Linked DNA regions of Homo sapiens: region 1 is linked to region 2. A link means that fine-mapping ties the variant in region 2 to the expression of a gene that starts in the linked region. Tissue or cell type: whole blood. Region 2 holds a variant in brackets; the other region holds the start of a gene. All regions are shown on one strand. Distances are between the middles of the regions. Region 1 holds the start of CPEB2 (cytoplasmic polyadenylation element binding protein 2). Region 2 holds the start of LINC00504 (long intergenic non-protein coding RNA 504).

The links.
Region 1: it holds the start of CPEB2, and the variant in region 2 is fine-mapped to the expression of CPEB2 in whole blood (TOPMed, PIP 0.98).

Annotation. Positions count from the first base shown.
Region 1 is chr4:14,996,419-15,007,076 of GRCh38, reverse strand. It overlaps CPEB2 (cytoplasmic polyadenylation element binding protein 2), which reads right to left and starts at 4,596. Exons shown (of 12, transcript NM_001177382.2): 1 at 2,742-4,596. The coding sequence starts at 4,403. It overlaps CPEB2-DT (CPEB2 divergent transcript), which reads left to right and starts at 5,032. Exons shown (of 8, transcript NR_038857.1): 1 at 5,032-5,139; 2 at 5,352-5,451; 3 at 5,848-5,916. It overlaps C1QTNF7-AS1 (C1QTNF7 antisense RNA 1), which reads left to right. Exons shown (of 6, transcript NR_125911.1): 5 at 507-606; 6 at 1,920-2,135. RefSeq lists enhancers at 2,150-2,716, 5,558-5,607 and silencers at 2,158-2,757, 3,138-3,347, 3,448-3,597, 3,648-3,957, 4,458-5,317.
Region 2 is chr4:14,881,209-14,891,866 of GRCh38, reverse strand. It overlaps LINC00504 (long intergenic non-protein coding RNA 504), which reads left to right and starts at 3,698. Exons shown (of 7, transcript NR_126435.1): 1 at 3,698-3,808. The variant C/T (reference allele first, on the strand shown) is at 6,005.

The sequences.
Region 1 (10,658 bases), 120 kb before region 2:
TGACAGTTACTAAAATAGAACCATGCAGTTCCTTTTTATCCTTCAGAGATAACTGTATACATGATAAATATGAAGAAAAAAATTGAAATTAACTCTGAAGATTCTTAAAGATATAACATACATGGTGATCTTAAAGCAACCATATTAATTATGCTAGGCACACAACTAAAAATATGGTCTTTGTTAATTAAAATATCCTACTCATACAAGTGAAATATATAGACTTTATGTTTCCAAAACAAGTTGCACTACTACAAAAGTGGGAATTACTCTTGTACAAATTAAAATCGCCTTTTGAAATAAGGACAGTATAGAAACTATGTCATTTTTCTGCATTGTTTATTTAACTGTTAAGGCATTTTATTCCAGTTTTAGCATAGTTTGTCTTAATTGTTTTTATTTCACTTAATTATCCATAAACTGTGAAGCAATTATCTGATGTTGCCCATAGGTGGATCCACTGAGGTATACTGCTAATTAACTATATGCTTTGATTATTCCACTAGAGATCTTGATACAAGTCTCCATCAAGTTGATTCATTTTCAAAAGTAAATTACATCCTAATCTCAAACCTGTGGCAAGACAAGTCAAATCATCAAAGAATGGTAAATCCATCAAAACGCTAATAATTGTAGTTTTGGGTTTTTTTTTTTTTTAAGAAGTATTCATTGCTGGTAATTCTACTGTCAGTAAGTTTATACTTTAATACTTTGGTGTTAAGATGTAGCTAAAGAAGTATGAACCATACAGTTACTACAAATAAATATGGTTCTCTTAAAATTGAACCTGCTTTTTGTAAGACAATTAAAAGAGAAACTCCTGATCTACAGCACCAATTTTTAAACACTTTTAAATGCTAACATAATCATGAGTATATTATTACTCTTTCCTCTTCCACAGAGGTCCAAAGCATAATTACAGAGCCATGGACAAACCACTTCATTCTTGAGGGCCTTACTCTCCTTATTAAATGATTTAATGCTCAAAGTTATCTTCCAGTGATCTAAAATTCCATATGAAAGCTGTGTGACCTCTCACACTCCATGGCTAGACCCATCTTTTGTCCAAAAGCAAATTACAGTTAAATATGGATCATGGTATATGTTCTTCCAACGCTCTGTACCACAACTTTAAGTAAATACAAAATTACCTACAGATAATTTTCTGTGGGCAAGTTTCCAGATAACAAAATGAAGATCCTGAGACACAAAAGACAGTTGCTGAGGGTTATAAAAATCATGAAAAAGTGGAACATTATTTCAAAATCCCTATTTTCAATCCTCATAGGCCACATTCTCTTTTCTAAGAAAGAAATCAGTGATTCAACAAAAACTGTTCACTGTCACTTTGGTTAACTTAGATAAACTGTTAACTTTCACTTGGGTTAATTTAGATAATATTCACTTTAAAAAGACTAATCCTTGAAAACTTTGGTCAACTGAAAAAGTTATGGGGTTAAGGTCATATTTTGCGTCTCTGTCAATCCTTAATCACGAAAATAGAAAATGGACTTAAACAGAATGAACTCTGCAACAAATGCTAACAAGATTCAAAACCAACAAGACACTCTTTCAATGCCAATTTACCAATCTAGCGGTCACCCAAAAATTGTATTGAGGGAATAACAAAAAAGATCTTGAATCAAAAAAGATCCGGAAAATAAAAATTCTGCCCAGTGTCATTTCACAATATTACCTACTTAAAATACACACGGCCCACATATTCCCTTGTAGAAGGTTAAGGCAACCAAAAAATGTACCGAAAGTCTACGAGGAAACACACCAATCCCAGATCCAAGTTCAGTTTTGTCTTAAAACCCACAAAACATGACCCCAACATTGAAAAGCACAGAAACTAAGACATTCGTGGGATATCTCGGTTTGAACCCGAGCGGTCACTAACAGTTTCTCTTTCCCAGTCCTGTGACAGCCAAGGAGGCGGCCCCGCGGGAACCAGGTCCTGCGAGGAGGGCGGTCGGCCGCTCCCTCCCGACTCCCTCCTGGGCCGGCGGCCCAGGGTGCGGCGCTGCCAGCAGGTTGATCGGGCGGAGCTTTGGGAGCGGCTCGACTGACCGCCCGAGGGGCTGAGGCTTCAAGGCGAGATCACCGCCGGCCAAATAAGAATAAACAAACTCCAAAGAAAAAAAAAAGCCTTTCCGCCTTCCCTCATTGGACAGCGAGACAGAGTCTTGGGCTCCTCCGCACGCACCTTCTCCAGCAATCATTTTTCCCCTGCCCAAGTTCACTTCCCACGGCCGCTCTTCCGAGGCCCCCGGCCAGCCCCCGGTCCTCGCCGCGCCTCCCCGCGTCGGGGGTCCGGGGCGGCGGCCCTCCAGGCCCAGGGCACAGGGCGGATCCCGGGGTGCGCCAGCTAGGAGGGCCGGGTTGAGACGCCGCGCCCGGCCGCCCGCGGCCCCGGCGCTATTCGGCCCCTGCCCCAGTCCCCACTGCTGCGCCGGGACGTTCGAGGGGGCGCCCGGCCAGCCGCGGCTCCCAGCGCGAACTCGTCTCCCACGCCCCCACAGCCCACGGTGGCCACTGCCCTCCCAACCCACCGGGGGCTGGGGTTCCGAGTCCTGTCACGGTTGTCCGCCCTCAGTTCCACTCTCACTTGGGCGAGTGGCCCCCGTCGCGGCTTCTCTCGGGGCTAAGGTCGGGTCCCCGGCTGCCCTGCCCCCGCCTCCGTCCCCCGCCCATGGTCTCCCGGTCCCGCGGCGCGGCCAGGCCGCCGCCCGCCGTACCTGGTGGTGGTTATAGGAGTTCCTCTGCTGCAGGAAGGCGGCGGCCGCCGCCTGGTGCTGCTGCTGGAGCTGCGGGCTGACGGGCGACCTCCGGCTCTGCGGCTGCTGCGGCGCCGCGGGCGGCGGGGGCTGCTGTTGAGGTATATTCATGGCGGGCGGCGGCGGAGGGGGCACAGCGGTAGCCGAGAAGGGGCCGCCGAAGCCGCCGCCGCCGCCGCCGCTCGTCGGAACGCTGAGCCCAGTGCAGCCGTGCGGCGACACGGGCGAGAAGCTAGGGAAGAAGGCCGGGTTCATGGACGACGGCAGCCCGGGGTAGAAGCCGTTCTCTGAGTCGGGGCTGGGCGGCGGCATGGCGCTGAGCGAGCCGCCGCTGCCGCCGCCCGGGGTGGTGGCAGACGAGCCGGGCGGCTGCGGCTGCGGCTGGGGCGGCTGCTGGGGTGGCGGCGGCTGCTGCTGCGGCTGGGTCGGCGGCGGCTGCTGGGGCTGGGGTGGCGGCGACGCGGTCTGCACCGACCAGGGGGTGCCGAAGCCGGGCAGCGGCGGCGGCGACGCGGAGCCGCCTCCCCCTCCGCCTCCTGGGGGCCCCCCGCCCCCGCCGCCGCCGCCGCCGCCCGGGTGTGGAAGGTCCGGGCTCTGCAGGCTGCTGAAGGCGCCCGCGCCAAGCGCACCTCCGGGCAGGAGGTTACTGGGACTGTTGAGCAGAGGGTGGTTGGGGGACTCCATGGAGCCCGGCGCGGGGTTCACCGGCGTCGAGGAGGCCAAGCCCGCATTGGGGGACTCGGCGGCGCTGCCCTCGCCCGCGGCTGGGGTCTTGCGAGGGCTGCCCGCGCCTCCGTGGCGGCGCCGCGGGGCTGCAGGCGGCGAGGGAGGGAGCTGCGGGAGCGGGGGCAGGTCTGCCGGACGCTGCCGCGGGGCGAAGTCCTGCGGCGAGAGGTGCTGCTGATGCAGGAGGCTGAACTGCTGCGGCGGCTGTTGCTGCTGGCGCTGAGCGAGCTGCGCCGGCTGGAGGAGCGGGCCGGCTGGCGGCGGCGGCGGGCTGAACCGACCGGGGCAGTGGAGCGGCGGAGGCGGCGGCGGCGGCTTCGAGTCCGGAGGGTGGGGAAGGTGGGGAGGGCTGAACTCTTTCCTCTTCTGGCTGCTCAGCTGCTGCTGCTGCCGCTTACTGAAGTCCTGCGGGGAGGAGGTGCGGCAGCAGCAGCAGGAGGAGGCGGAGGAGGAGGAGGGGTGGTGCAGACTCGGTTTGAAGTCCTGGGAGGGGAGGAGGTGGGTCACACCCGCGATCGTGCCGCCGCCGGGGTGGTGGTCGGGGAGTTTCTCCGTGGCCGCCGCCCCCGAAAGCGGCCGCGCCGGCTGCTGTGTCAGCCCCAGAAGCAGCTCATCCTGCATGGTCTGCTGATGCGCCAGGAACGGGGAGGAAGAGGAAGCGGCGGCGGCCGGGCTGCCCGCGCCGCCGCCGAGGGGGACGGAGAAGGGGGAGGCGGCCTCTAAGAAGCCGGTGACAGGCAACGGTGGTGGCGACAGTGGGCCGAAGGGCGTGGCGGAGGGCAGCGGGTTGACGGACCCCACGGCGTAAGGACCATACGCCTCGCCGCAGAACAGGGGCCCAGGACTGCTACTTCGGAGCGGGGCGGTCTGCAGCACCCCAAACCCGAAATCCCTCATTTATCAGGCCGCCGGCAGCGGGAGGAGACGCTCCTCGTCCCCTGCCCCACCTAGGAAGCCGCCGGCGCTGGGGTTGCGCGGCCGTGGTGGAAGGAGGGGGAGTCAGTGAGAGAGGGACACCGTGACTGAGCCAGGGGGCACCGACTTCGGCCCCACCACCCCTCGCGGCGATCGCCGCCGCCGCCGCCGTCGCAGTCGCCGTAGCCGCCCTGGCCGCTTAAGAACCCCGGAACGTGCGTCAGCGCCACCTCACAATCGCGCCGCCCCCCGCGGTGCGTCCCGGCACGCGCGGGCGCGAGGCCACCGCGTCCCCGTCGCCCCTCCCCGCCCCTCATTACTATGCAGACGCAGCCGAGGGCGCGCTCGCGCTCCCGGGAGGGCGGGAGCGAGCGGCGTGTCCCGTTGGGTCTCTCCGCTCCCGGGGAAATGGACAGGCCGGTTGGGGTGGGGGTCGGCTGGCAAACAGTGGTCGGGAGCATTGGGCGGGCGCGCGCACGAGGGCAAGCACGCGCGGGAGGGAGGGACGGTTCCTGGGCAACGGCCCCTCCTTGGCGCGGGATCCGCGCAGAGTCTGCCTGGGTCGCACGCGTCTCCGCCCCTCGCGGTGCCTCCTCCTTCCTGTCACCTCGGTTCCGCCCTGGGTGGGGAGAAGCCCTGCTGCACCACTCGGGCTTCCCAGAGCGGGGCTGGCCCGCGGGGGAAACTGAGGCCCGGGACCCCGACCGGCGCCTGCACTGTGCGACCCGCGTAGAAATAGGCGCCCGAGGGGCCCCCAGCGCAACGCGGGAGCCCGGCCCAGCCCGGGGGTCCTGTGGTGAACTAGCGTCTGGGCTCTGCCGGCTTGAAGTCCGCTGAGCGCCTCGCCGCGCACCTCTAGACCCCGAGTCCCCGATCTAGGGCCTCCTTGTAGCCCTAGGTAGCGCCCTCTAAGCTTGTTTCTGTTTTTAGGCGCTGGTAGGAGTGCTGTCACCGACGTCGTAGAGCCGCCGAGGGTGTTTCTGTAGGGTAAACATGAAGCCTCGGCTATATTCCAGGCATTTTCACTTGGGTAAGAAGGAACAAAGTCCCTGGAACAAACACGCTCCGCGTGGTTATTTACACACTCGGATGCGTGGAACGGGTTCCACGGCGAGCTCCCATAGTAACCCCGGGCCAGCTCCGCTTCATAAAAGCCTTTCGTGTGCCATCAGGGCTGCAGCGTGGGACTCCTCCCCACCACATTCATTCCGGCGTCCCCGCCCCTTCCCCCCAGGGAGACTCTAATTTATTCCTAAGCTTTATGAATTTTCAAGGGAGAAATAGTTCTTACATCAGGGAAAAAAGGAGGTTCTGACTCAGCAGCAGACTTGTTGAGACTTGCAAAATGGAAGGGAGAGAGCTTTCCATGGTAGAGCTCTTTAGAAGCATTAGAGGAGGAACTAATCCTGTGTTTCCTTTTGTATAGAAACATTTTACATAAAGTATTTGAAGGTCTAGATAAAGAATAACAGAGTGATCCATACTACATGATGAGGTGAACTTTATGTTTCTGTTTTGTAATTTTAACTGTTTTGCTTGATGCTTAGAGAAATGAAACTATTAAATGAATCCTAGAATATAGACTCAAACCCCCAAAGCAATAGAAGGTGGATTCAGACTTTACTTGATTTTGGTTTACAAGTGAACTAAGATTAAATATTTAATTTTATAAATTAGCATACTCTTACTGATGTAGGCAGAGTGTACATTTTTATAAGTCCTCATTCTCTATTTGAATTCTACTTCTGTTCAGTGTCTCAAATTTATATAAATCGAAATAAACATGGTAGAAAGAGAGCAACATTGCCCCAGGGAACTATACTTCATGTATAATGTTTATCTCTGCTATCCTGTCCAATGAACCAAGTTTTATGTTGCCTTTACAATAAGGAAAAAGTACTTTTTAAAAAACTCAAATGGTTCAGAATTTGGTCAGGTGAATAGAAAATTGGTTCAACTTATTAATCTCAAAATCATTTTTAACAGTCAGGCAAAATGTAGAACTGGAGAAGTATTTTTATTCTAAATTACAATGTCTAGAAAATAACCTGAGCTCAGAATTTAAAATATAAATGGTTATTTTCAGAGTATATATTGACATATTAAATATTCATTTTTTAAAAGGTATTGTGCAGGAAAAAAAACTACTTCTGCAACTAAGGAATGTAAAGTCTTAACAACGGATGATTTTTTTCCAAGTACAGTTGTATTTGATTGGAATCATTTGCAGATCCAACAACAAATCTTGAAATAGGGGGAAAATACAGGTATAAACCTTAGCTCAATTATCCACTAACACCGCAGTTAGTAAAGAGGAGAGAGCACATACTTTTAAAAGCTAACTGGTGCCTTTCTGGGCTAGAGTTTTGAACAAAAACAAGATTTCTTAGTGCTCTGGTACTAGTTTTGTCTTAGAGGATTTAGAGCTCTCTGAAACGGGGAAAAGCCATCAAGTTTGTTATTACATAATAATGTCAAACTTCATATTAAATACACCAAATTCCAAATCCTGCCAGGGCCTCTACTCACTACTTTTGTGAGGGCCCCATTTTTTTAGAGCAGAAAGTTACTTTCTGACATCTTGTAAGCTGGTGATCTTGCCCTTATTGAAAATATTCAAATGAAAAGGTTTCCTAGGGTGGAGAGTGGAGTGGGGTAGGGAGAAGGAGCAGCAAATACTGAGGAGGGACTATGGTCCTCTAGCAGTTTCCATGCCAAGATCTTATGAGTCCATTCAATGATTTTTTTGGTTTTTTACATGAAAATATTTTGACTCATGATCATTAACTAGGACCTTGACTTTGTATTTGACAGTCCCTTATTCATTTACTCCCACTGTCCTGGGCAAGTATTTTTAAAAGTATTTTTGCTACAACCCAATATATGTGCAAGTACACACTCATGCAACTGAAATAAAGCTGCTATTAAGCAATTCTTTTAATAATGCAACAAACTCCTTTTTATAATTCTATTTTCATTTTAAAATCACGTTTGATCTCAAATTACAAAGTTGGTTTTAACACCCTCTATCAGATTATGAACTGAAAAACCACTGTCCTAGACCATTTCAAACATTCTGCTCAATCTGAAAACCTCTTGTCACATCTCTCCTACATGCATCTGCTAGCATGTAGCACTCTCAGCTGCTGAGCTACATGCTTATTTCACTGAGAAAAAAGAAGCAACCACAGGAAAACTTCCACAGTCTCCCTGCATCTGTCCCTGCACACCTTGCCTTCCCTCTCGATACAATGGATGGCCCATCTGCCCATACTCCTGTCTAAGGCCAGCCTCTCCACTGGCGGAGCAGATCCTACCTCTAACCTACTCAAGACATGGGCTCCAACAGTTTTCTCTCTCTGTCCTTCATCATGACCTCTTTCCTCTCCAGGAAACACTTCCATGTGCACAAAAACTTGCTTTACTAGTTCTCACCTTTGAAAAGTAAAGCCAAAACCTTTTGACCTTATATTCTCCCTCCTTTAGCTACTGCCTTCTTTTTCTGCTTTTACATTGCCTGAACGACTTGCCCATTTGACTGAGTGTCTCATAGATACCTCAAATTAAACACGTCAAAAATTAAACTCCCTGCCTCACTAGGCCCAATCCCTGTGGCGCTCCATTGTTCTGGTTGCTCAGGCCAAAAACCCTGGAGTCATTCTTCACTTCAATCCACTTCTGTCCTTCTTGCATCATATCCAAGCCATCAGAACATGTTGCTTGTCCTACCTTTAAATTACTGGCATAACCTAGAGATACCGTGGGTTTTGTTCCAGATTACCACAATAAAGCAAATATCCCAATAAAGCAAGTCACACCAATTTTTTGGTTTCCCAGTGCATGTAAAAGTTATGTTTACAGTATATTATACTCTAAACATAAGTTCTCAATTATAGTCTAAACATAACTTGTAATTACATTTAAATAAGTGCACAGTAGCATTATTCTGAAAAATATACACACATTAATTTAAAAATACTGCTAAAAAGTGCTAATGATCATCTGAGCCTTCAGTAAGTCATAATCTTTTTGTCAGTGGAGAGTCTTGTCTCGACATTCATGGCTGCTGACTGATCAGCATGGTGGTGGCTGAAGGCGGAGGTGGTTGTGGCAATTTCTTAAGACAAAGATAGAGTTTGTCACATAAATTGAATCTCCCTTTCATGAAAGATTTCTCTGTACCATGCAATGCTGTTTGATAGCATTTTGTCCACAGAACTTCTTTCAAAATTAGTCAGTCCTCTCAAAACCTGCTAATGCTTTATCATCTAAATTTATGTAATATTCTAAATCTTTTTTGTCATTTCAGCAGTGTTCATAGCATCTTCATGAGGAGTAGATTCCGTCTCAAGAAACCACTTTCTTTGCTTATCCATGAGCAGCAACTCCTTCTCCATTCAAGTTTTATTGTAATATTGCAGCAATTCAGTCACATCCTCAGGCTCCACTTCTAATTCTAGTTCTCTTGCTATTTTTACTACATCTGCAGTAACTTCCTTCACTGAAGTCTTGAACCCCTCGAAGTCATCCAAGAGGGTTGGAATCAGCTTCTTCCAAACTCCAGTTAATGTTGACACTTTGACCTCCCATGAGTCACACATATTCTGAATGGCAGCTAGAATGGTGAATCCCTTCCAGAAGGTTTTCAATTTGCTTTGCCCTTATCCATCAGAGAAATCACTATGGCAGCTATAGCCTTATGAAATTTATTTCTAAAATAATACTTGAGGCTGTCCTGGTGACAACTTAGTGATTTTAAATTTTAAAATGAAAATAGAATTATAAAGAGGAGTTAGTTGCATTATTAGAAGAATTGCTTAATAGCAGCTTTATTTCAAAACAATCTCAGCACTTTGGGAGGCCAAGGCGGGCAGGTCACTTGAGGTCAGGAGTTCAAGACCAGCCTTGCCAACATGGTGAAAACCATTCACTTCTAAAAATACAAAAATTAGCTGGGTGTGGTGGCGCATGCCTGTAATCTCAGCTAATTGGGAGGCTGAGGCAGGAGAATCGCTTGAACCTGGGAGGCGGAAGTTGCAGGGAGCCGAGATAGTGCCACTGAACTCCAGTCTTATAGCCAGAGCCAGATTTTGTCTCAAAAATAATAATAATAATACTTGAAACTCATAATTACTCCTGAATCCATGGGCTGCAGAATTGAAGTTGGGTTAGCAGGTATGAGAACAACAATTATCTTCTTGTACATCTCCATCAGAACTCTTGGGTGACCAGGTATATAGTCAATGAGCAGTAATATTTTGAAAGCAATCTTCTTTTCTAAGCAGTAGATCTCAACAGTGGACTTAAAATGTTCAGTAAACTATGCTCTTTCCAAGTTTTGTGGTTCCATTTACCAAGCACAGGCAGAGTAGACTTAGCATGATTCTTAAGGGCCCTAGGATTTTCAGAATGATTAATGAGCATTGGCTTCAAGTTAAGGTCACCAGCTACATTAGCCCTTAAGAAAAGAGTCTGTCTTTTGAAGCTTGAAGCTAGGCATTGACTTTTCCAGCTATGAAAGTCCTAGATGATACCTTCTTCCAATAGAAGGCTGTTTTTTCTACGTGAAAACTTATTTAGTGTAGCCACCTTCATCAGTTATCTTAGCTAGATTTCTAGATAACTTGCTGCAGCTTCTCCATAAGCACTTTCTGCTTTACCTTGCACTTTTATGTTACGAAGACAGCTTCTTTCCTTAAACACGAACCGACCTCTGCGAGCTTTGAACTTTTTTCTTCTGCAGCTTCCTCACCTCTCTCAGCCTTCACAGAATTGAAGAGAGTTAGGGCCTTGCTCTGGAGTAGGCTTCAGCTTAAGGGAATGTTGTGGCTGGTTTAATTTTCTCTATCCAGACCATTCACACTTTTTCTATATCAGCAATAAAGCTGTTTCACTTTCTTATCACTCGTGTTCACTGGAATAGTACTTTTAATTTCCTTCAAGAACTTTTCCTTTGCATTCAGAACTTGACTAACTACTTGGTGCAAGAGGCCTAGCTTTCAACCTATTTCAGCTTTCCACATACCTTCCTCACTAAGCCTAATTATTTCTAGCTTTTCATTTAAAGTGAGAGACATGTACCTCTTCCTTTCACTTGAATACTTAGAGGTCGTTAGAGTGTTATTAATTGGCCTAATTTCAATATTGTTTTGTCTCAGGGAATAGGGAAGCCCAAAGCCTTTATTGATTAAATTATTGTCTTATATGGTTGTGGTTTGTGATGTCCCAAAACAGTTA
Region 2 (10,658 bases):
ACATTCTAAAAGATATTTGGTTGATTTGTCTTCATAGGCTTGATAGAATTCTCTTGTGAAATACTCTTGACCTAAAATGTGTGTGTGTGTGTGTGTGTGTGTGTGTGTGTGTGTGTGTGTTGTGAGAAAGTAGGCATAAAAGAGAAGAGAAGTCAATGATGACTCTAGAATTCTGGCTTGCATATTTGTTTGGCTAGTGTTGCCATTGCCTGAAATAGGGAGCTCTGAAAGAAGTCCAGGCTTAGGTGAAAATCTCATGGATTTGATTTTAAACAAATGTTGACTTTCAGATTTTGCCTGACGAGGAGCCTCAGAGTAGCATTGTACTTGTCAGAGACGATGACTAGGAAATTTGTGCAGAAGCTGTGTTTAAATGTTGTATTAGTTTGCTAGGGCTGCTACAACAAAATACCCCAAACTGAGTTGCCTGAACAATAGAAATGGGTTCTCTCATAGTTCTGGAGGCCAGAAGTCCAAAATCAAGCTGTTGGCAGGGTTCGTTTCATCTGAGAGAAGGATCTGTTCTGGGCCTCTTTCCTAACATCTGATAGTTCCTTGGCTTGTGGTGGCAAAACCCAGTCTTCATATGGCATTCTCCCCGTGTGTCTGGGGACACCCATCATATAAGCCCACTCTAATGACTTCATTTTAACTTCATTACCTCTGTAAAGCCTGTGTTTCCAAATGAGCTCACATTCTGAGATACTGGGGTTAGAACTTCAACATATGAATATTAGGGGGAAACACAATTCAAACCATAACAAATATCAAACATACTCTCTTAATTTAAATTTTATTTTTATTTTGGGGTAGCTATTGGGGTGGGGCTAATGAAGATTATTTGGAGGAAATGTTCCCCACCCACCAGCCACTCATTGTTGCTGCCAAAAATTTGCTGCTGTGTATTCAGGTGACTTCAAGATATTCAAAAGCATATGTTATGCTAAGTGAAAGAAGACAAGCACAGGAGACCACATATTGTATAGTTCAATTTCTATGAAATATTTGGAATAGGCAAATCCATGGAGACAGATTCATGGTTGTTTAAGGCTGGGGTTGGGGCTGGGATGTGGAGCACAGCTAATGGATATGAGATTTCTTTTGGGGGTGATAAAATGTTCTAAAATTAAATTGTGGTAATCAACATATAACTGTGGATATATTAAAAACTACTGAATTGTAACTTAAATTGGGTGAGTTGTATGATGTGTGAATTATATCTCAACAAAGTTGTTAGACATTGTCAGCAGGTGGATGTAGGAATATTTGACTAGATGAATTTTAATGTTCATTTCAGCCATGAGATTCTAAGATCCTACATTCCTTTATTGTTCTGAGTCTCAGTTTTATCATTTGTAGAATGAGGAGACTGGAGTCTATGGAATAGATGATTCCACTTATAACTGAGCTGAAAAACATCACCTGACATCCTTATTTTACCTACAGAGCAGACTAGTTTAGAACATGGACTTTGGAAGCAACATACCTGGATTTGAATCCAGTTCTTTCATGGCTCTGCAATTTTAGGCAAGTTATCATACTTCTCCCAAGCTTGCTCTCCAAAAAGGAATATGGAAGGGATGATACAAGTACTACCTTCTTCATAGGGCTGTTGGAAGGATTTAATGTGATAATATTCTAAAGGGCTCAGCAAACACTTGGCACATGGCAAGTCACTACAAGAAGGTAGCTATTAATTTCCTATGGCCAAGACTAATGGCTCTACTTCATTAGTGGACCAGATAATTCTTTTTCAACAGGAAACAGACCATTGTGTTGTCCTTTCTAATTTGATGTTCTATCATTTATACATCGCACGCAATTTTTAATTATTAATTCAGCAGCATCTGTGTCAGTCCAGAACATATTTTCCCTCACACCCCTCCTGCAGTCTGGTAAGATCTTTGTGTTATCAAATAATCAGACTGCCTCTGTTTACAAGAGGCACCAAAAGCCAGATCTGTAATCATTAAAAGCAATCCTGATGGATGTAAATACATCTAGTTAATATTTATTGAGCACATATTTTGTTCAAAATATTATGCCAAGCACAGAGGGAGCTGCAACGATGAGCAATATAAAGATGTTACTCTCACAAATCCCATGGTTTAATGGGGAAGACACCCCCATGTATTAATTCAGTGATACATCAGATATTATTAGGGGAATGGAAAGATATGTCGTACAGTGCATCTTGTTGAGCTCAATAATAGATGTATGAAGTAAGTGCTGAGGACACCTGGAGAAAGAGGTGATTGAGTCAATATGGAGAGGAGATGCCTGCCAGGTGGAGAGGTGAATGAGGCCATTCCCAGTTAAAATCAGGGAATAAACTGAATTTCTCATCATTCAACAAACAGCTCATGCCCATTCATGGCCTGCATTTCTGATTTGGAGACCAGGGAAGGCTTCATGTCTAGGTAGAGCTGCTTCTGGAATGACGAAGTAATATTTGGATATTTAGAGAAGAGACTAGGGAGGACGATCATAGAAAGGGAAGATACGATCAGATTATGAAAGGCCTTCATGCTAAAACACTGAGATCACAAAAACTCATAAAGGGGAATGACAAACCCAAAATTATGCATAAATGTGGCTGTGCACATGCTGGAAATAAAACACACAAGTGGCTTTTTTCCCACTTTTCACTTAGTGTTCTCAACCCAGAATTTTGTGTGCATTGATCAGGAAATTGCTCTTTTTTCCTAATAGGTAAGTATTTGAGCAACAAGGCAGCATGTAGTTTCAACATCAAGCTCACTGCTGACTCATTTTTCTCTCAGCACCTAAGCTTTTCATTGTCAGTAACATTAATTATACCTATCATTCACTCTAACATGACCTTTATTTTTTTCCTCTTTATAACATTCTCTCCACATGGGCTCATGTTTGGGAGGCTGGAGACTGGTGATGTCAGCCCTGAGTTTTCATCATGTGGCAATCAGAGCTCTAGAAGCACAGGTCAGACTTTCAGGCTCTTCTGTTGCTCTGCCTCCAGCATTACGTGCCTGAACTGAATTGGCAAGCCATTCTCTGCTACCAGGATGCAGAAAATCAGGTTCCTAATTTGCCAAACAATTCTTCATTTCAAAAGGTTAGGGCAAGATTTGCAGAAGAGAGTTGGAAGGAACAACCATTTATTAAGATATCAGTGAATGAATGTGGACAGTGTGCTCCAAAGACCCGTATTTGAATCCCAAATCTGCCACTTATTTTCTGGGTAACTTTAAGCAAATTGCTTCCCTGCTCTGAGGCTCTGTTTCTCCCTCCTCTAGAGAATGAGGATGGTATTATTTATCCTGCAGGCTTGCTGTGTGGCTTGAATGAAGTTCTCACTGCAAAGCATGTGATCCAGACTTGGGCACAAGGTTGACTCCTACTGTCAAAGGCTCAGCAGAAATGACAGCTATGGTGAGCTTTCACCTCCTGCAGGCTTTAGGAAACCAGTGTGTAATGGGAAAATAGAGTAAAAACGACTGATATGGTTTGGCTGTGTCTCATCCAAATCTCAACTTGAATTGTATCTCTCAGAATTCCCACATATTGTGGGAGGAACCCATGGGGAGGTAATTGAATCATGGGGGCCGGTCTTTCCTGTGCTGGTCTTTCCTGTGCTGTTCTCGTGATAGTGAGTAAGTCTCACAAGGTCTGATGGGTTTATCAAGGGTTTCTGCTTTTGCTTCTTCCTCATTTGTCTCTTGCCTCTGCCATGTTAGAAGTGCCTTTCGCCTCCCACCATGACTCTGAGGCCTACACAGCCACGTCGAACTGCAAGTCCACTTAAACCTCTTTTCGTTCCCAGTTTCAGGTATGTGTTTATCAGCAGCATGAAAATGGACTAATACAACTACCCTTGAAAATCCCTTAAGCCAAATGATTGCATATATGGTTTTATGCCCATGAAAATAAGGTCGCTTCTGGTTAGCGGCCAAAGTGAACAAAAACCAAGTAAACAAGACATATATTTTAGAATTAAGATCATATTGATCATAGAACTTATTCACCATGTTAGATATGCAGGGGAGTAAGAAAGTCCAGGGCCGACCTCATGGTTGTGCATTCTGTGCCATTGTAAAGGGCCTCACACTCAGAAGAACCCTGTGCTTGGCCCAATGCTCTGCTATCACTGTCTTGAAATTCTTAATTTTTGAATAGGGAGTCTCTCAATTTTACTTTCCTCTGGTCCCTACAAATTATATAGTCAGCCCTTGTCATATATTTAAATTATTATTTCTCACTTACCCTCATTCCCATCCCAATTTGGTATAGTTGAATTCACATAAAGGCTTATATGATATGTTGTATAGCTAACTGGCTGTGGTACACAGTATCTTAATGTATTTTCAAGCATACCCTCGGAGATTGGTATAATTGGCCCCATTGGAAGGATGTGTAATTTACTCAAGGTCATATGATTAGTAAGGCAATTGGTATGCCTGTCTACTCTTTCTATTATGCCACAATGAATGAGAAAAAAAAACAGAAGGAAATTTCAGTGCAAAAGTAAGAGTTATAGGAGTACATTTGAACTAAACCGATGAAGAGGGGCATGCTGGAACCAGCAACACATTATGTATTTATGTAAAATTCCTTCAGATGTGTGCTTGCTTCCTGGCATGAAATCTGCAGCATTTTGCTCGTCATTGTATTCCCAGCCCCTGGCATAATGGTTAGCATGTAGAGGACGCTCAATAAATACTTGTCGAATGAAGGATATTCCTGCCAGATTCTTCTTCATTCTGCATTAATAATTTGGCCTTCCTTCTTGCATATTCATATGTTTGCTCCTTTTATTTGAATCCCCGTCTGTTTGATAGAAGAATGTTCTTTAGCAAGCGTGACGATTAATGATATCAGGCAAAAAGCCCCAAGATCTTAACTGATGAACAAACACAAACTTTGTTAATGATGCTTTTTGTAGAAGACATTGCTGGTTTATTATGTATTTCAAGCTAAAGGAGAATTCTAGCTACCATTTGAATTCTCTGCTACCTGGAGTGCCTTGGAAAAGGCCTTGGGAGAAAGAACTCCTCTTGCAAGTTGCAATTTTAAATTAGGAGTAATCTCCCTGCCACACCTAGGAATGAATTAGCACACTCTTTCTGTGTCATTATCCATTCATCCTTACTCTGTCCCTATAGTCAATGTGTCATGAGGGGCTTTTGATTTTTCCTCCTAAATTGCTCAACACCACCCCTCCTCTCCATGATCGGTTATTTCTCCATCTTGGAACTCACATTTCTCCTCCCTGTACTAACCCAATGGCCTTTTAGCACGCCTCTCTGCCTCCTTCTAATGTAGTCATTGCACAGAAGCCAGAGAAGTCTTTCCAATAAAAGACCCTAAACTCAGCACCCTCCGATTACAAGGCCCCCAGTCTCTCACTGCCAACTGCGTAAGCTCATACCTATTGGCCCAGCATTGCAGAACCCTCACCATCCTTCTCTTAACTACCTTTCTAGTTGATTCCTCTGCATAAACCCACTCATGGCATAACCCAGGCTTGCAGTCTGGTTCTCTGAGAAGCAGACTCAAGTGCAGAGTTTAGTGTTCAGGTGAGATCAACACCTGTGAGGGGAAGGATGGAGGGAAGAGATAAACTATGGTAATGCAGTACCAATGGTGGCCTCTGCCTACCCCAGTGGGAGCTCTGGAGAAAAATTGCTGCTAAGATTTTCCCTCAGTGGACCCAAATGTCTGAGCAGTGGTGGGGAGGGGGCTGCTTCTGGGATGGTGTGACCTTGGGTAAGATGGCTCTCTGCAGCCCAGGCCACCCCTGAGGAGCTGACCGCTGGAGATGTTTCTCTGCGAATGTTTCCAGCATCTGGGAAAACAAAATTTTTCCCTCTCAGAAGGAGGATCTAGGAAGTGTATCTCCATGTTTACTTCACCTAATCTCTTTTTTCTGCAAAGAACTTTTCCTCCTTTTCTGTGGCTTCATGCCTTTGTACCTGCCTTTTCTTCTGTCTGAAATGCCACTTGCCTGCCTCTTTCTCCCTTTGAT[C/T]TAAATACTTTTTTTGTTTGTTTGTTTTTGAGCCGGAGTTTTGCTCTTGCTGCCCAGGCTGGAGTGCAATGGCGCGATCTCGGCTTACTGCAACCTCTGTCTCCCGGAGTTCAAGAGATTCTCCTGCTTCAGCCTCCCTTGTAGTTGGGATTACAGGCATGCCCCACCATGCTGGGCTAATTTTGTATTATTATTATTATTATTATTTTTAAGACCGAATTTCTCTCCTCTTGCGCAGGCTGGAGTGCAATGGTGTGATCTCGGCTCACCGCAACCTCCGCTTCCCAGGTTCAAGCAATTCTCCTGCCTCAGCCGTACTGAGTAGCTGGGATTACAGGCATGCAACACCATGCCTGGCTAATTTTGTATTTTTAGTAGAAACGGGGTTTCTCCATGTTGGTCAGACTGGTCTCGAACTCCCGACCTCAGGTGATCCACCCATCTCGGCCTCCCAAAGTGCTGGGATTACAGGTGTGAGCCACCATGCCTGGCCTGATCTGCATAGTTTTAGTTTTCCTTTATGACTGATGTCAAATGCTAAGTCTTCTTGAAGCCTCCTGTCACTCATCCAGGCAGATTTAGTTGCTATTTAATATTTTCAGTCAATGTACATTGCATATATGCATGCATCATAACCTCTGGACACACTAAAGATATAGGAGGTACAATCCGTGCCCTTATGACCTCCTAAAGATATGTGTCCCTTTTTTTGTGCTGTGGCAATGCTCAGTGCTTTCTTTTATTTTTAGCATCTGCTACATTACTTCTTTATTCATCCACTCAGTTATTCATTTGTTCATTCACTGAGTATTAATCAAGCATTTGCCTTCTATGTATCCAGTGTTTCTGTAAGCCCTAGGATACAATGATGCATAGTCAGGTTTGCTGAAGGGTAAATATTAATCAATGGATCATATAAAGTTTGCACAATTCTAACTTGGACAAAGAGTATGAAGTTCATGGAGCTAGGAGGTTTTACAATAGCTCGTTTAGCCTAGTCAGGGAGGTCAGGGGAAGTGGGTGGTAGAAGTGATTATTACAATATAATTTGGTGAAGGGAGAGGAGAAGAAGCCTTTCAGGTAGAGATTGCAGAATGTGCTCAAGCCCCATGGCAGGAGAGTGGAAAGAGAATTTAAAGATGAAAATGAAGTTGCACGAGGCTGGAGTTCACAGAGCGAAGAGAATAGTAGAGAACAATGTGTCGTGATTGCAAATGCTCATGGGAATGTTTATAGCTTGGCATTTATGCTCAGAGCAGTGGGAAGCCATTGAAAGGTTTTAAGCAAGAGGTCGAAATGATCAGATTAGAGAGCTGAAAATATGCTCTGACTTCAGTATGGAGAATAGATTGGAGGATGGCAGAGATGCCATGTAGGAGGCAGGGCTGTTAACTAATGAAATGAGGGTAGCTTGAACTAAGGTGGGGGATGGACAGTGGGAGATAGATCTAGAGCAATTTAGGGGAAAATGAAAAACAAACCTGGCAATCCTTGGTGATTCGTTTGTATGTCATCTGGGATGACAGAAAGGGAAGTGTCAAAGCTGACTTTAGGTTCCCATTGATCCCTAGCTCTTTTGGATTCTAAATCTGATGAAAATTATAAACCTCTTTCTGGAGGCAGACACACACACACACACACACACACACACACACACACACACACACGCAGCATTTTGAATGTCATTTCAGAAGGACATATAGAACTTGTAAAGCCCATTTATGAGCCCCAGGTGGGAAAGAAAACCAAATCTTATTCCTCACTGTACCTCTTGATTCTATTCTAGAAAACAGTGTGGAATCTGGCATGCAGTACATGTTCGTTGAAGTAATGAATAAAGGTGAGAGGAGATAGAGGGCACTGAGACACTTCTAGTGGTTAATTTTCTGCCCTTTCAACTGCAATATGGATGTAGGCAGTTATAGAAGAGTTATAACTTGCATGTCTATGTACCAACTGCTCATTAACTTGCAAGGCAGCATTAGGTGGGAGAGTCCACAAATGGACTCATGAGCCTCCAGGTGGTGAAGAGGAATAAATTTCAAAGTATTAAGGTTCCAAAGACCCAAGATTTGTCTGCAGCAGCTGTCTCTTCATAATGCTAAGTACTTTGGACTAAAGAATAAAAGTGTCTGCCTTTATTTTATGTGGGGGAGTGCATCATTTAGAGATGAAGACAGTCTGCCTATGGCTGAATGGGTAAGTTAGGTTAATGTTATCGTGTGGAAGAAGCAAAAATGATAACTGTGTTCATAGACAGAGATTTAGAACAGAATCATGTCTTTGCAGATAAGACATTTCAGGAGGCCAGTAAAGATAAGAGGGAGAAAAAATGCATAGAAGGAAGTTTTAGGAAAGATTTAGTTTGCCCTTATTAACCCTAGGCTAGGTTGGATTTTTCTCTTTGTGCTTTGAACAGCTGCATGTTAGAAGGAATTGCCATCTGAACCACAGACTCTCTGAAGGGCCTTAGCGATCACCTGGTTCAGGCTCCACCAGAGCAGGAATTCCCGCTGCAAGACTCTTAGCAGATGGTTTGTGGTTCCTCCTGAAGCTGGGCTAATGAGGCTCTATTGAACAACTCTGATGAAAAGTCCTGTCCTGATTGTTTAGTCTACACCAGGAATGGCAAATAGATTAAATCTGCATGACAATTCTAATTACTCGATAGTGCTTAAGGATTCTGGGGCTGAGTCTCAATTATTTTCAAAAAGGCAATAATTGTTGTAACTTGGAAGCTAAAACTGTTCTATATTTGCCATTCCTGGGCTAGTTCTTTCAGTCAATGAATTCAACTTACATTTATTGATCATCTACTATGGGCCAGTAGTGTGGTGTTAGAGGGTTGGGTTATAAATATAATGGCTATTTCTCAGTTCACATTTTACCTGCCCTATCTGCTACATCAGATACAGTCGTTCACTTTTTTTTTTGAGACATAGTCTCGCTCTGTCGCCCAGGCTAGAGTGCAGTGGCACTATCTCGGCTCACTGCAAACTCTGCCTCCCAGATTCAAGCAATTCTCCTGCCTCAGCCTTCCAAGTAGTTGGGACTACAGGCATGTGCCATCATGCCTGGCTAATTTTTTATGTTTTTAGTAGAGACAGGGTTTCACCATGTTAGTCAGGATGGTGTCTATCTCCTGACCTTGTGATCCACTGGCCTCGGCCTCCCAAAGTGCTGGGATTACAGGCATGAGCCACTGTGTCTGACCCACTTTTCCCTTCTTAAAATATCTTCCTACCCCACAACCCCACCATCCAGCCCCACTGCAATACCCCTGCTTTTGGTTTCTCTGAAACCACATTCTCTCACAGGCCAGTAATAATCTCACAGGCTAGTCCTACTCAATTTTCTCTTCTTCTCTGTCTTAAAATGTCGGTTGGCCACAAGTATGACCCCAAATCTCCTTTTTCTCTCTGTCTCACTTTCTGTCTAGGTACGTCCTGTACCTCCAGTCCCATGTCTTCAAATACCATCTATATGCTAATGATATTCAACTTTTTGTCTCTAGTCATAGAGTGAAACCTATATAACCATCTGCTAGGTGACATCTCCACTTACAGATCTAAAATGCATCTCAAACATAACACATTCAAAAGAGAGCCCTTGATTTCCATATTTCCTCTATCCACCCCCAAAATCAGACCTCGCTCATCTGCCCATCTTCCCCGTTGGTAAATACACTACCATATATTCAGTGGCACTTGCAAACGAGTCAGATTTTCTTTCTTCTTATCACCATTCTCTATGCCATGAGCTATTTCTGCCCATTCTATCTCCAAAACTTCTAACTTCTTTCTAATCTGGCCAAGTCACTCTGCCCCTTGGCCATCCTGATCATTCTTTACTGGAATATGTCAATAAACCCCTGTCTGTTCTTCCTGCTTGCATTCTCACTTCCCAGCGGTCCACTGCCCACACAATAAGAAGATAGTCTTTAAAAACGAATGCTAATGAGATCATGGAAATTGGCTGTTTAGAACGCTCCAAAGACTTCCCTGTGAAGAAAATTCAAACGTGAACAGGGTGGACCTCAGGGTTTTCCTCCCTCACCAATCTCACTGCTCTTGCTTCTTTCAACCACCCCCTGACTTTTTATTGCTCCATGCATCTTCCATTCTTGGGGATTTCACAGTTTTTTGTTTCTCTGCCTAGAATATTCTTTTCTCTGGTTTCCCTATGGCTGGCTCCTTCTTGTTTTCTAGGTCTTAGCTTAAATTCCACCTTGTGGAATATCTCTATCATCTCTTGTCTGGGATGACTGTAATCACCCTTGTTTCCCACTCCTCCACACTGCTCAGCAGGTTCAGCAGGATCCGCTCAGTTTAGCATGGTATAACGCCTGCCCAGCCCTCCAATCTCAACTTCACCGGACTGTGTGTCTCACATGTTCGGTTCGCCTCACATAGACAAGCTCTTCCTTTCCTGTACTGTAGAATGCCTCTGAGCCTTTTCCCAGGCTGTTACTTCTGCCTGAAACTGTCTTCCATCTTTTCTTCTGGCTGACTGCTACTCTTCATCTAAGATGCAATTTACCAGGTGTCACCTTCCCTGGAAATGCTTTACTGACCTCTCTCCTTTCCCAAAGTTCTCCCACTGCTTTCTGTGCTTGGCTCCTGAAAGTTCTTGGGAACTGTTTAGTTACATTGTT